Regions from separate parts of the Homo sapiens genome. Here all the other regions are linked to region 1. The links come from fine-mapping of genetic effects on gene expression. A gene starts in region 1. Each other region holds a variant in brackets. All regions are shown on one strand. Distances are from middle to middle.

Evidence for each region. PIP is the estimated chance that this variant, and not a neighbour inherited with it, causes the effect. A credible set is the group of variants that fine-mapping cannot tell apart.
Region 2: its variant is the best candidate, but not a certain one, in a credible set for the expression of DCUN1D2 in caudate (GTEx, PIP 0.87).
Region 3: its variant is the best candidate, but not a certain one, in a credible set for the expression of DCUN1D2 in nucleus accumbens (GTEx, PIP 0.77).

Annotation. Positions count from the first base shown.
Region 1 is chr13:113,489,068-113,493,168 of GRCh38, reverse strand. It overlaps DCUN1D2 (defective in cullin neddylation 1 domain containing 2), which reads left to right and starts at 2,458. Exons shown (of 7, transcript NM_001014283.2): 1 at 2,458-2,502. The coding sequence starts at 2,500. It overlaps SLC9D1 (solute carrier family 9 member D1), which reads right to left and starts at 2,148. Exons shown (of 13, transcript NM_017905.6): 1 at 1,896-2,148. RefSeq lists a silencer at 1,838-2,757 and an enhancer at 2,988-3,287.
Region 2 is chr13:113,535,013-113,539,113 of GRCh38, reverse strand. The region is part of intron 9 of SLC9D1 (solute carrier family 9 member D1); the gene reads right to left. Among named protein-coding and RNA genes, the nearest start is that of SLC9D1, 46 kb to the right of the region's middle. RefSeq lists a silencer at 476-664. The variant T/G (reference allele first, on the strand shown) is at 1,927.
Region 3 is chr13:113,877,909-113,882,009 of GRCh38, reverse strand. LINC00454 (long intergenic non-protein coding RNA 454) reads left to right here. Exons shown (of 3, transcript NR_047035.1): 2 at 518-662; 3 at 2,678-3,382. Among named protein-coding and RNA genes, the nearest start is that of LINC00454, 3.5 kb to the left of the region's middle. The variant T/C (reference allele first, on the strand shown) is at 2,113.

The DNA of each region.
Region 1 (4,101 bases):
CCTTTGAGGATTTTAGTTGTAGTTATACTAAAATTTCCCACTGAAACATACTCATAACATGAAACTGAAATTATTTATGGACCCTTAAAATACAAATCACCTTTATTCAAACTCATTTCATTTTATCTTCAAACTTGCCTCCAAAATCCTACTGACTACTAAATTGTAGCATGTTTTTTGAGCAAATTAGTAAACATCTTTAGCTGTTCTAGTTATTAAAAAGACACTTTGGATTCCTGTAATGTGTTTTTTTTGTTGTTGTTGCTGTTTGAGACGGAGTTTTGCTCTTGTCACCCAGGCTGGAGTGCAGTGTTGTGATCTCAGCTCACTGCAACCTTTGCCTCCCGGGTTCAAGCAATTCTCCTGCCTCAGCCTCCCAAGTAGCTGGAATTACAGGCGCTCGCCACCACACCCAGCTAATTTTTGTATTTTTAGTAGAGACGGTGTTTTGCCATGTTGGCCAGGCTGGTCTCAAACTCCTGACCTCAGGTGATCCACCCACCTCAGCCTCCCAAAGTGCTGGGATTACTTTTTAAATAATGAATTCTTAGAATTTCTGCATCTTGAGCAATTGATACACATAACAATGCGGATGTATCTCAAGGCTGAGTGAAAAAAAATCTCAATTTTATTGAGAAGACACACAGGTGTAGATTCACACTCACTAGTGCATGTATAGTTGGTGCAATCTCAACAGGTCAGGGGATTTGATCAAAGAAAATTCCCCACATATACTATGGTTTTGCAAGGTGCTACCATTGGAGAAAACAGGGCAAAGGCACTCTGTAGGATTTCTCTGTATTACTCCTTACAACTTCATGTGATCTACAACCATCTCAAAATAAAAAGGTTTTCAAATTCTACCTAAGACCAGGTGCGGTGGTTAATGCCACTGCTGTATTACGACACAATTATCTGTATTCCCAGCGCTCTGGGAGGCTGAGGTGGGCGAACTGCTTGAGGTCAGGAGTTGGAGATCATCCTGGGCAACACAGCAAGACCCTGTCTCTATTAAAAATGAAATAATTAGCCGGGCGTGATGCTCCCTGTGGCCCCAGCTCCTGGGGAGGCTGAGGCGGGAGAATCGCTTGAGCCTTGACCAGCCACTGCACTCCAGCCTGGGCGACAGCAAAACTCTGTCTCAACAACCACAAAAAAGCTTTAGAATATTTAAGTCAAGCCTGTAGGAGAAAAAAACTACAAATATTTCACAAGTAATCCAATCATTAAGACACTCCTTTTGAAAAAGCCGGTAAATAAGATAAATTTGGAAGACAGAATAATCAGAAAAACAGGCAGTGAATAGGGACCCGATACGCAGCGGTCTTGCTTCCCCCGCGCAGGCGTCCACACCCTGGGTCATGGACACCGTGAGGAGCCGTTAGGAGTCACAGGAGGGGGGCCAGGGACAGGGCTGCATCTCTGCGGCCGGCCCTGGAGGCCCCGAGTCCACCCGGGCGGCCAGGGTGGGAACGCAGGTTCCATTCCAGGTTAGAACGTGGGCCTCAGCGAAGAGCGCCTAGGCAAGGCCTGGAGGAGCGGGACCCCAGGCCACACAGACCACCCGACCCCGGGAGACAATACCTGCAAGAAAAGGGGAGCCCCGAGGAGAGAGAGAGGGGAGGTGAGCCCCAGGGAGGGAGAGAGAGGAGGGGAGCCCCAGGGAGGGAGGGAAGGAAGGAAGGGGACCCCTGGGAAGGGAAGAAGGGAATGGGAGCCCCGGGGAGGGAGAGAGGGGAGCCCCAGGGAGGGAGGGAAGGAAGGAAGGGGACCCTTGGGAAGGGAAGAAGGGAAGGTGAGCCCCGGGGAGGGAGAGAGGGGAGGGGAGCCCCAGGGAGGGAGGGAAGGAAGGGGACCCCGGGAAAGAGCCCCGGATGGACGGGCCTGGTGCTCACCGGGACGCAGGGATCCGCGCCCGCCCGTCCGGCCCGAGCATCACCGTTCCGCGGCCTGGGCCGGGCTCTGAGGCGCCAGGACCCGAGGGGCGGAGGGGGACGCTGTCTCCCGCCTCGGAGCGCAGCGCCGGAGGGCTTCCTTGCATCCCTTCCCAGGCGGGACCAGGGAGGCCGGGAGGCCGGGAGTCCGGGAGGGAGCGGCCGCCGCCCTGCCCAGCACCGCCCCCGCTCAGCCAAGCCGACCCGGACTCCCGCCCAGCCGCAGTCACTGCCCCCTTTAAGAGGCGGGGCGTGGGCGGGTCCCGTCGGCCGCGGGCGGCGAGCACTTCCTGGCCGGCGTGGGGCCTGGCAGCCGCAGGCTGGCGTTGGACCCCGCAGGGGCGAGCCAAGGCCCTCGCAGAGGGCTGGACGCGCAGGGGCTGTGGGGCGCGAGCTCCCGTGGGCCCCCGGGCGGCGCTGAGCATGCCGGGAGTGGGAGTCCCCGCGGCCGGCTCCCGGCACTGCCCCGGAGCCGAGGGCCGCGGCCGTCCGAGGACGAGGGCGGAGCCGCCGCCGCGCCTGCGCAGAAGGCCGGGGCCGGCCAGAAGCGGGCGGCGCGGGGGAGATGGTAGGTGGCCCGGCGTCGCCTCTGCCCGTCGGGGTCGGGGTCGGGGTCGGGCCCCAAGGTCGGCGCAGGCGGCGCGCTGGATGTGGGAGGCCGAGCCCAGCGAGCTGCGCGGGGCGTTCCGCGTGGATCCGAGGGAGGAACGCGCCGCGGGCCCGCGAGCCGGAGCGGTGGCGTCGGAGGCGCGGGACCGCGGGGAGCGCGGGTTTGACCCGGAGCCGCGAGGGACGACCGGGAGTGAGCGGAGGGCGGGGGCCGGGAGGAACTGTAGGGGCCTTGGGGCAGGGGCCGGGGCCGAGCGGGAACCCAGGCCGGGGGCTTCCCAGGGCGGCTTCGAAACGGGCAGTCGAGGCGGGCGAGGGCTCGGCTGCTCCTGCGGGCGTCTGTGCAGATGCTGAGGCTGTTGACCAAAACAGCGCAAGGAAGGAATCCGCGAGAAGCTCAGATTCGCGGGGGAGGCCCTGCTGCCGGGAGGGGAGGGAGAGGCACAGCGGGGCCCTAGCGCGGGCTCTAGCCGGGAGCTGTAGCGTGGCTGTAGGTGTGCATCTGTGGAGCTGGTAGAGTTCCGCAGCGCAGGAGGGAGGCTGCTGGAGGTGCACATCAGTTACTTTGAAATGTGGTGGAAATGGTGATGGATGGGATTTATTCAGTCCACATCGGTTCAGAGGCCAGCAAGGTGCTGCTGGGTGTGACTGGTGCTGGGCCAGGCATGATCTTGGCGTTGAGGGAGTTGATGCCCCAGCAGGGGAGACAGGCACCAGATGCACAATTGTTTGACCACAGTTGGGACAAAGGCTAAGGCACGGGTTCCAGGAACTTGTAGGATGCGGCTGTGGGAGTGGTGTCAGATGCTGAGGGTGTGAGTTGAACTGTGGAGAATTTCTCTGGAAATTAGCCAGAGAAAAAGTGAGGTTCCGGGGCAGCCAGCCGTGTGCGGCTCCAGGCAGAAGAAACAGAATGCACAGACCCTTAGTGGTAGGCGATGATGACGTATAGGAGCTGAAAGATTGTCCTGGCTAAGGCACAGAGAGCCACCGGAGAAGGGACACGGTAACGTGTAGAGGGGAGTGGAGGGTGAGGACAAGCTTCAGGATGGGAGAAGAGCCACAAAGGAGACTGAGAGGGGGCTGGTAGGAGAAACCAGGACACTAGAATGTGTCGAAACCAAGAGGATGGAGTTTAAAGGAGGAGGGAGCCATCAGCAGTGCTGAACAAAAGAGCAGCTGAAAAGATCCCACTGACCGCAGCAGCCGAGCTTTTGTGACCTTTAGGGGTCACTGCGGAGGCCGGGCTGGAGCCAGGTAGCCTGAGTTAGGATGCACACCTGGGCAGGTAGAGATAGCTTGCTCCAGCTTTTAGGAGGACAGGGGCAGAGTGGACAGGAACTTAGTTTGGGGAAAACTTGAACATGTTCAGGATGCTGGAGAGGAGCGTTCCACTGCTGCCGAGGTTGGAGATCCAAGAGCAGGGATGAATTTAACTCCCCCTCCCTCTAGCGTGCTGTATACCGAAACAGAGTGAAAGTGATCCATAAACTTACGTAGTTTATTCGATCAACATGATTGGCCCGCCAGCCCCGGGTAAGTTGACCCTAAGGACATT
Region 2 (4,101 bases), 46 kb before region 1:
ATCCATACAGATTGCGCTGAAATTTTTGAATGAGAATATTTTCCAACTGTTTTAAATATTTGTGATACATTTTCTTGACCTTGAATCAGAATAGCCCGGTGGGAGTGTTAGAAACGCATTCCCACTACCAGCCTCAAAGCAGAGAGAAAGCGACAGGACGACAAGCAACAGCCCCGGGAGGGCACGAAGCCAGCGAGAAGCATCGGCGTGTCCACGGCGGCTGATCTGATACCCAGGTTTGCAGCCACATCAGCGCGCCGGCCGGACGGCCGCGACACGGGAGCCTCAGCGCAGCTCTGCGAAACGCAGGCTTATGGCAGCCTTCCGGATGACGCACGGCTGACACCGGCCAACCTGAAAGATGATTTTTATCTTGAGAAAACAAAACTGTAGACGATAGCAGCATCAGACGAAAAGAAAAGAAACTTGTAAAGAACTACGATTTATAATGGCAACAAAAACATCACATCCTGAGGATTCAACCCAAAAGAAGGCCTGCACCTGACACTGCAAGACACAGAGACCCACGAAAGACGGAAGACTCAGATGACAGCGCCAAGGGCTCAGCACGGCGGAGCGGCGGATGCTCCCTCCCCTGGCCAACAGACGCACAGGAGCGCCAAGAGACTCATGTGTGTGAAACTGACCAGCTGAATCTAAAAACTCGAGTGGAATTTGGAAAGAGCACGAATAGAGCCAAGACGACCCTAGCACAGAACAAAGCTGGACCCAAACACGGAGATCAAGCTGCGGTGCAGCCGAGGGCAGGTGGGCAGAGTCAGAGGGGCATGTGCACACACACACACACGCACATGTGCCACGGGTACACACACCACACACAAAGCAGACACACACGAACACATACCACACACACACCACACAAAGCACATATGTATGCATGCACACATGCCACACACACGTACACAAACCACACACCACATAAAGTACACATTCATGCATGTACACATGCCACACCAAAGCACACACATGCATGCACAAACACATACATGCACATGTAACATTCCACACAAGGCAAACGAATGCATGCACATGTACACACATCACATAAAGCATACCCCACACATGTACACATGCCACAAAGCACACACATGTACACACACCACAAAGCATACATGTACACACCACAAAGCACACACATGCATGCACACAGGTACACATGCCATGCACAAAGAACACACACATGCACATGCACGCACACACACACGGCTACTTGGTTTTTGACAGGGTGATGCTATAGAAGGGGGGAAGGAGGTCTTTTCAACGCATGGCATTCAGAAACGCATGTGAATGAATGAATCCTCATCCACTCCCTCACTTCCAACACAACCGAAGCTCACCTCTGGGTGGACTGAAGATCTAATGAGAAAAGCACAGCAGAACGCTCACTGACAACAGTAAAGAGCATCTTCACGACCCAGGGGCAGGCGGATCTTTCACACAGAACACAGAAGATAGCCACGAAGAAAACAATTCATAAGCGATGATGCTGAAATTAAGAACTTCTGTTCATCAAAAGACACCGTTAAGAGAGTGAAAAGGCGAGTCACAAACTGCAAGACATTTGCAAAAACATATCTGACATGCTGGAATGGAATGTTTTTCAGCCATAAAAAGGGGCGAAGTGCTGGTGCGCACGGCGACGCGGCCAGGCCTGGAGGACGTGGTGCTAAGTGGAAGCCAGACACGGAAGCCGCCACGCGACACGGCCAGAAGCAGCGGCCCACGGGGCCAGGAAGTGGCTCCATGGCCTCGAGGAGCTGGGGGGAGAACTGAGCGCCATGGGGATTCCTTTGGGGAGGTGGATATAATTGGGTAGTGGTGATGGTGGCAAAACATTTTGAAGGCTGACTTTCAAATGATTAAAATGGCGAATTTTATGTGAATTTCATCTCAGTAAATAAATTT[T/G]TAAGAAGGACAAAAAAATCTGCCGGCATATAAAAAATAATTCCTACAAATGAGAAGAGAATCCTCACCCTACAGAATAACGACCTGGAGGCTTTAATAGGAACACCGCCAGGACAACACCCAGGTGCCACTGAGCTTTGGAAAGGGCTTGAGGGACCAGCCATCGGGAAGTGGACGCTGGAGCCCCCATCAGAGCCCTGAGATGCTCCACTCCTGGAGCAAGTGCAAGGAGGCTGTGGGGCACGGCGTGCTCACGGCACAGCAGCAGGACGGGCTGGCATGGCGACTTTGGGGAAACCCACGTCATGGCTACGGCTGAGCTCCTGTTTACTGTGGCCCTGCAACCCTACCTCCACAGGCACTCTACTAGGCTCATCAGCAGTGAAAGCACCTTCCAGAAACACGAGAATGGGCAGCAGCTCTAAATGGAAACGAATCCTAAGACTGAACAGTGGAAAGAATACATTGTGGCATCGGGTGCAGATGTGCAGAAGGCCCAGCACCCCAAGCAGCTGGCAGCAGGTGCACGGTGAGGGCTGCCCAGAGAGCGAGAAAACCTGAGAGCCGGGCAGAGTCACTGTAATGGAAGAAGCCACTGGGAGGGCAACACGGAAGTTGTCCAGATAAGACAATTCTGCTGGGAGTTATTTTCAAAGAGAAAAATACTCTGGAATGGATAAAACAATGTAAGAATTTAAATAAGTCACACTCTTGAAATAGTTAAAATCACTACAACCAGAAGCAAATCATAATTTCCTCCCAGGTTTACAAAACATTAGCAGGCAATTATATATAAGAAACAATTTTTGTTAATTTACTTTTTTTAAATGGAAACTTTTTTTTTTTTGAGGCAGTCTTGCTCTATCAACTCTGCCTCTGCCTCCTGGGTTCAAGTGATTCTCTTGCCTCAGCCTCCCAAGTGTCTGGGACTGCAGGCAGGCGCCACCATGCCCAGGTAATTTTTGTATTTTTGGTAGAGACGGGGTTTCACCATGTTGGCCAAGCTGGTCTCGAACTCCTGACCTCAGAAGATCTACCCACCTCGGCCTCCCAAAGTGCTGCGATTACAGGCGTGAGCCACCGCGCCCAGCCGGAAACTTTTTATTTTGAGATAATTATATATTAACCTGCAGTTTTAAGAGTAATACAAAGTCCTCATTACCCTTTAGTTTCCCCAATGGTAACATCTTGCCAAATTACAGCACAAGATCCCACTCAGGTGCTGATACGGACACAGCAAAGACAGCGAGTGCCATCCATCCCCAGTCCCTCCCCAGACCCCGACTCAGGTGCCGATATAGACACAGCAAACACAGCGAATGCCATCCCCATCCCCTCCCCAGACCCCCACTCAGGTGCCGATACAGACACAGCGAAGACAGCGAGTGCCATCCCCAGCCCCTCCCCAGACTGCCCATCCTCAATTCCTGGGAACCACGAGCCTTTCCTCAACTTCAGAATCTTCTCGCCTCATAAATGTGACATAAAAAGAACCACACAGTACGCAGCCTTTGGGGGCTGCCTGCCCACTCTGCGCAGTTCTCGGAGGTGTGTGCCGGTGGTTTTACTGCTGGGTGGCGTTCCGTGGTATGGACATAGCTCAGTTTGTTGAACATTTATTTACCCACTGAAGTACCTTTGGACTGTTTATGGCTAATACGAATAAAGCTGCTATAAACACCTGTGTACAGGCTACTGTGTGAACACGGCTTCATTTCTCTGGGATAAACAGCAGGAAGAGCACCTGCCGGGCTGAACAGTGACGGTGCACAGGTGCACTGTTGGGACAATGGTGACGGTGCCCAGGTGCGCTGTCAGGACTACTGAGACTCTATGGGGGTCCAGGAGCATCTCCCGCCACTCTCATGTAAAGACTGTCGTCTCGGTAAGCAGAAGCCCACTTTCCAAAATGAACTTTATTTTTTAACCTTTCACATGGCAGAACTTATACAGTTAATTAGCTTGTGAGCAACACAGTTAAAAACTGTTTTTCCAAACTTAATTTTGTATTTCAGGTGCAAAGCTATTTGAAAATTTAAGACAGAGTAGCATGGTTTGATATTAGTGTTTATGGCGCTTTTTATCATCACAGTTTTGTTTGTTTTGATATGGGGTCTTGCTCTGTCGCCCAGGCTGGAGTGCAGTGGCACGATCTTGGCTCACTGCAAGCTCCGC
Region 3 (4,101 bases), 390 kb before region 1:
CCCACTCAAACTCCAAACACTAGTCTCTCCCCCATCACAAGGAAAGACAGGCATGGTCCCCCACCCATCAGCGGTGTTGCTGAATCTGGCAGCCACTGTGTTTGTCAGACCTGCCTGCCTTGTTCAGCAGGGAAACCACTTGCTATGATGAATGGAGCTGCATGTGAAACTTAGATAAGCAGGCAGGTCGAAAACACCTCCTGTGCCAGCATTCCAGTTTTCTTGCTTGGCCCAAGAACCTGGTTTCATTTTGGAAGGTGGAGGGAGTGTGTGGCGACCTTGTTGCCATTTTCAGGCATGGCTGGGCTCTCACACAGTCACTCTTAGAACAGACATGTCCCTGCCTGGAGGCCAGGCCCTCTTGGGTTGTGGGAACCAAGCCCAAAAATGTCAAACAAGTGGCAAAACCTTTAGGGTAATTTTCCTCTAACTCAAAAAACACCTGGCCGCTTCTCCTCCCCAGATGTTAAAGGTCCTTTTATTAGCATTGTCCTATTGTGTTTTTTTCATTTCTCAGACACAGACACAGGAAGCATCAACTCTGAGGCTTTGGCCAGGATGTGAGCCCGACTTTCGCAGCCCCAACTGGCAGGCTGACCTCATGTGAACTCCCTGGCGATGGCATCCTGGAGACACCCACATGGCTGAGCTGGCACCATAGGGTGAGGGCACCAGGGCCATGGGGACCGTGGTTGCTTGCCTCAGACATGGCCAGCAAGGGAGGCACAACATGGGGCTGTTGAGTGAATGTGTGAGAGGCTGTGGGTCCCCACAGTCCAGCCACCAGCGGCCTCGCAGCATCATAGGAGTCTGAGGTCCAAGACACCGGACTCACATCTCAACCCTGCCCTGTGCTGCTCAGGGCCAAGTCTAAGCTGCTGTGACAAAGAGGCCCCCACATGCAGCAGCTGCCACAGAACACGGTCATCTGTTTTTCATGCACGCTGTAGCCCTGGTCATTCCAGCCAGAGCCTCCAGGTTTTGTTGCTCTTCCAGGGCACGTTCTGGGCTGTGTGATGGAGGCTGGACTGTGGGCTCCTCTGAGGAGGTAGAGGGATGCGCACCAGGGCCCCCGTGTTGAGGCTCGGCTCCCACCCCATCACCTCTACTCTAGTGAGGCCACTTCCTGCGAAGGTAGCTGGATGCTCCTGCCTGGAGCTGCCCCCGGACCACAGAGCATCCAGGAGATGAATGCACTTCCAGCCCCGCCACCCTGGGGAGATATACAGCTGAGGTGGCAGCTTTGGAGCAAGCAGGGCAGAGATGCTTCCCCCTGAGGTCCCTCCCAGCTCTGCTACCTTGTCACTCAAGGTATGGGTTGGTTGTGTTCCCCAAAAATACATGTTAAAATCTGAGTCTTCAGCACCTCAGAATATGACATCATTTGGAAATAAGGTCATTGCAGATCTAATTACCATAGTGACCCCTTATCCTGGGGAAAATGTTCCAAGGCCCTGGTGGATGTCTGAAACCTCAGATAGTACCTAACCCTATATACACTGTGTTTTTTCCCATGTGTACAGAAATACGATAAAGTTTAATTTATAAATGAGGCACAATAATAGATTAATAACAATGATAAAATAGAACAGTTATAACAATATACTGTAATAAAAGTTATGTGAATGTGGTCTCTCGCTCTCAACATATCTTACTATACTGTATTTTCCCTTCTTCTTGTGATGATGTAAAGTGCTGTAAAATGCCACGTGGTGAGATGAAGGGAGGTGAGAGATGCAGGCATTGTGATGTAGATGGAAAATTCCAGAAATAGAAAATTCCTCAGTGTTCAGTTATATTCTGTTCCGAGCCATCCCATCCAAGCCTGGGTTGCCATTGGCCACTTGGCAGTCATCCTAGTGACCAGATGGGCTGTGGTGTCACAGTGCTTGTGTTCAGGTCACCCTTCTTTTACTTAATAATGCCCCCAAAGCACAAGTGTAGCCATGTAATATTTGTGGAGCGTGGTTGACCGTGAGTGACTAAAACCCAGAAAAGTGAGATGGAAGACAACGAGGACCACTGTAGTTAGGATGAAGTCGTGACTGTGTCCTTATAAGAAGAAGGGTGACACAGGAGCCCATGTGGTGGTGGAGGCAGAGATGGAAGCTG[T/C]GAATCCACAAACCCGGGAGCATCTGGAGCTTCGGAGGCTGAGGAGGCAGGGAGGACCCTCCCAGCTGTTGGGGGAGCACAGCCTTGCTGGCACCTTGATTTTGGACTTCAGGCCTCCAGAGCTGAGAGAAGATACATTTCTGTGGTTTTGAGCTCCCCGGTTTGTGGTACTTTTCCAACTGCCCCAGGACACTGCTGCGCCAATGCCCTTGACCTTCAAGGTTGCATTCTGGCTGATGGAGCTGATGGGCACCCCGGCTTCACTGCCCTTGGGCTCCCACTCTGACTGGCCTGTGCTGAAAGGTTAAAAATAGCTCTGCATATATTAAAATAGCTATGTCAATTCTAAAGGCTCACACAGCTGCTCTAAGTGTCTTGGATACTCTTCAAAATAATATTTATAGGCCTCTTCAGGCTCTGTCGAACCAGCTTTTTTAACATTAATTAAAGCCAAGCTCATTAGTTTGTTTACAAGTTGGACTTGGCACACTTTAGCACTTAACAGGAGATGAAAACTGCAGTTTGTTCAATTTTCTTTTAATAATTTTGTTTACATTTTTGCCAGCACTCATAATCCAGGTTCAGTTTCTGCCAGCACTAATTTGGTTTATTCCACATGGCTGGAGCCACTGCGGGACTCCATTTGTTCCGGGGCCACCTTCCTGTCACCTTTTACTGTTTCTTGAGTCAGCAAGAAAGGCAGATCCGACTGAAGACTCCAGCACTCTCCTCAGCTGCAGCCCCCACAGAGCTCCGCGAAGTCCTTTCTCCCACAGGACAGATCTGAGGCACCCACCATTAGAAGAAAGGAGTGGAGAAATGATATGCAGGAAGAAGGCCCATTCTGATTCACCAATCGCATGGACGCACTTTCCTACCAGGCTAGGAGGGAGGAAAGTAGAGCCCCACCCTGACTGCTAAGCCGTTTGCTTTGGTGTCATGAAAAAAGAGTTCAGCTTCCCAAATCAGAGAGGAAAAGGTTTTCAAGGGGTCCCCTATTTCTATTATGTAAGCTTTAAATGACAAAGTGGACCTCTGGGGCCAACGTGGGTGTGTGATGGTGGTTTTGTGGGATTCTCCCCATAGCCCCATCAGACGGCCTCACCTTCTGGGTCTCAGTGGCCCCAGGTGCAACACGGCTCCTCCAGAAATGATGACAGCCCTGGCGACCAAGGACTCCCTGTGCCACTGGGTTTGCGCTCAGAAGTATATTCAATGATTTCCCCAGAAAATTCCAAGTCATCTCCTAATACTGTTTGTGAAAACTAAATGAACTGTCGTGGTCTTCTTCAGGGACAGTTTGCTAGGAAGGGTGGTTATTGGCATAATTTTCCAAATCAATGAACTAAGTTACAAAACTTTCTCAAAGACCCTGATGGCTGTTACAAAGACAGAAAAGTGAATGGTCAGAAAGAAGTGTGATAATTCACCCAGTATTGGGAGGACGAGGTGGGCGGATCACGAGGTCAGGACATCGAGACCATCCTGGCTAACACAGTGAAACCCCGTCTCTACTAAAAAAATACAAAAAATTAGCCGGGCGTGGTGGTGGGCGCCTGTAGTCCCAGCTTCTCGGGAGGCTGAGGCAGGAGAATGGCGTGAAACCTGGGAGGTGGAGCTTGCAGTGAGCCAAGATCACGCCACTGCACTCCAGCCTGGGCGACGGAGCAAGACTCCGTCTCATAAAAACAGCCTAAGACAACCACACAGCACACAGGCCTTCATCCTTGGCTGTGACGGATGCGTGTCCGTGTGGAGGGCCAGGCCTGTTTCTCCCGTCACTAATGGAAGCCTCTCTGAGTTTCCATGAAAGTCTCCCCCTCAGAAGGGGCTCTCTGGAAATTTTCAATTATGTTGGTTAGGATAGTAATACATGCTTTTGCTTAAAAATCAATGGGTGCAGAAACAAAAGTATAAAGTACAAAGTGGGTTTCCCCTCCTCAGCCAGAGGCAATGATGTTAGCAGGTCAACCCCGATACCGCCGCTCA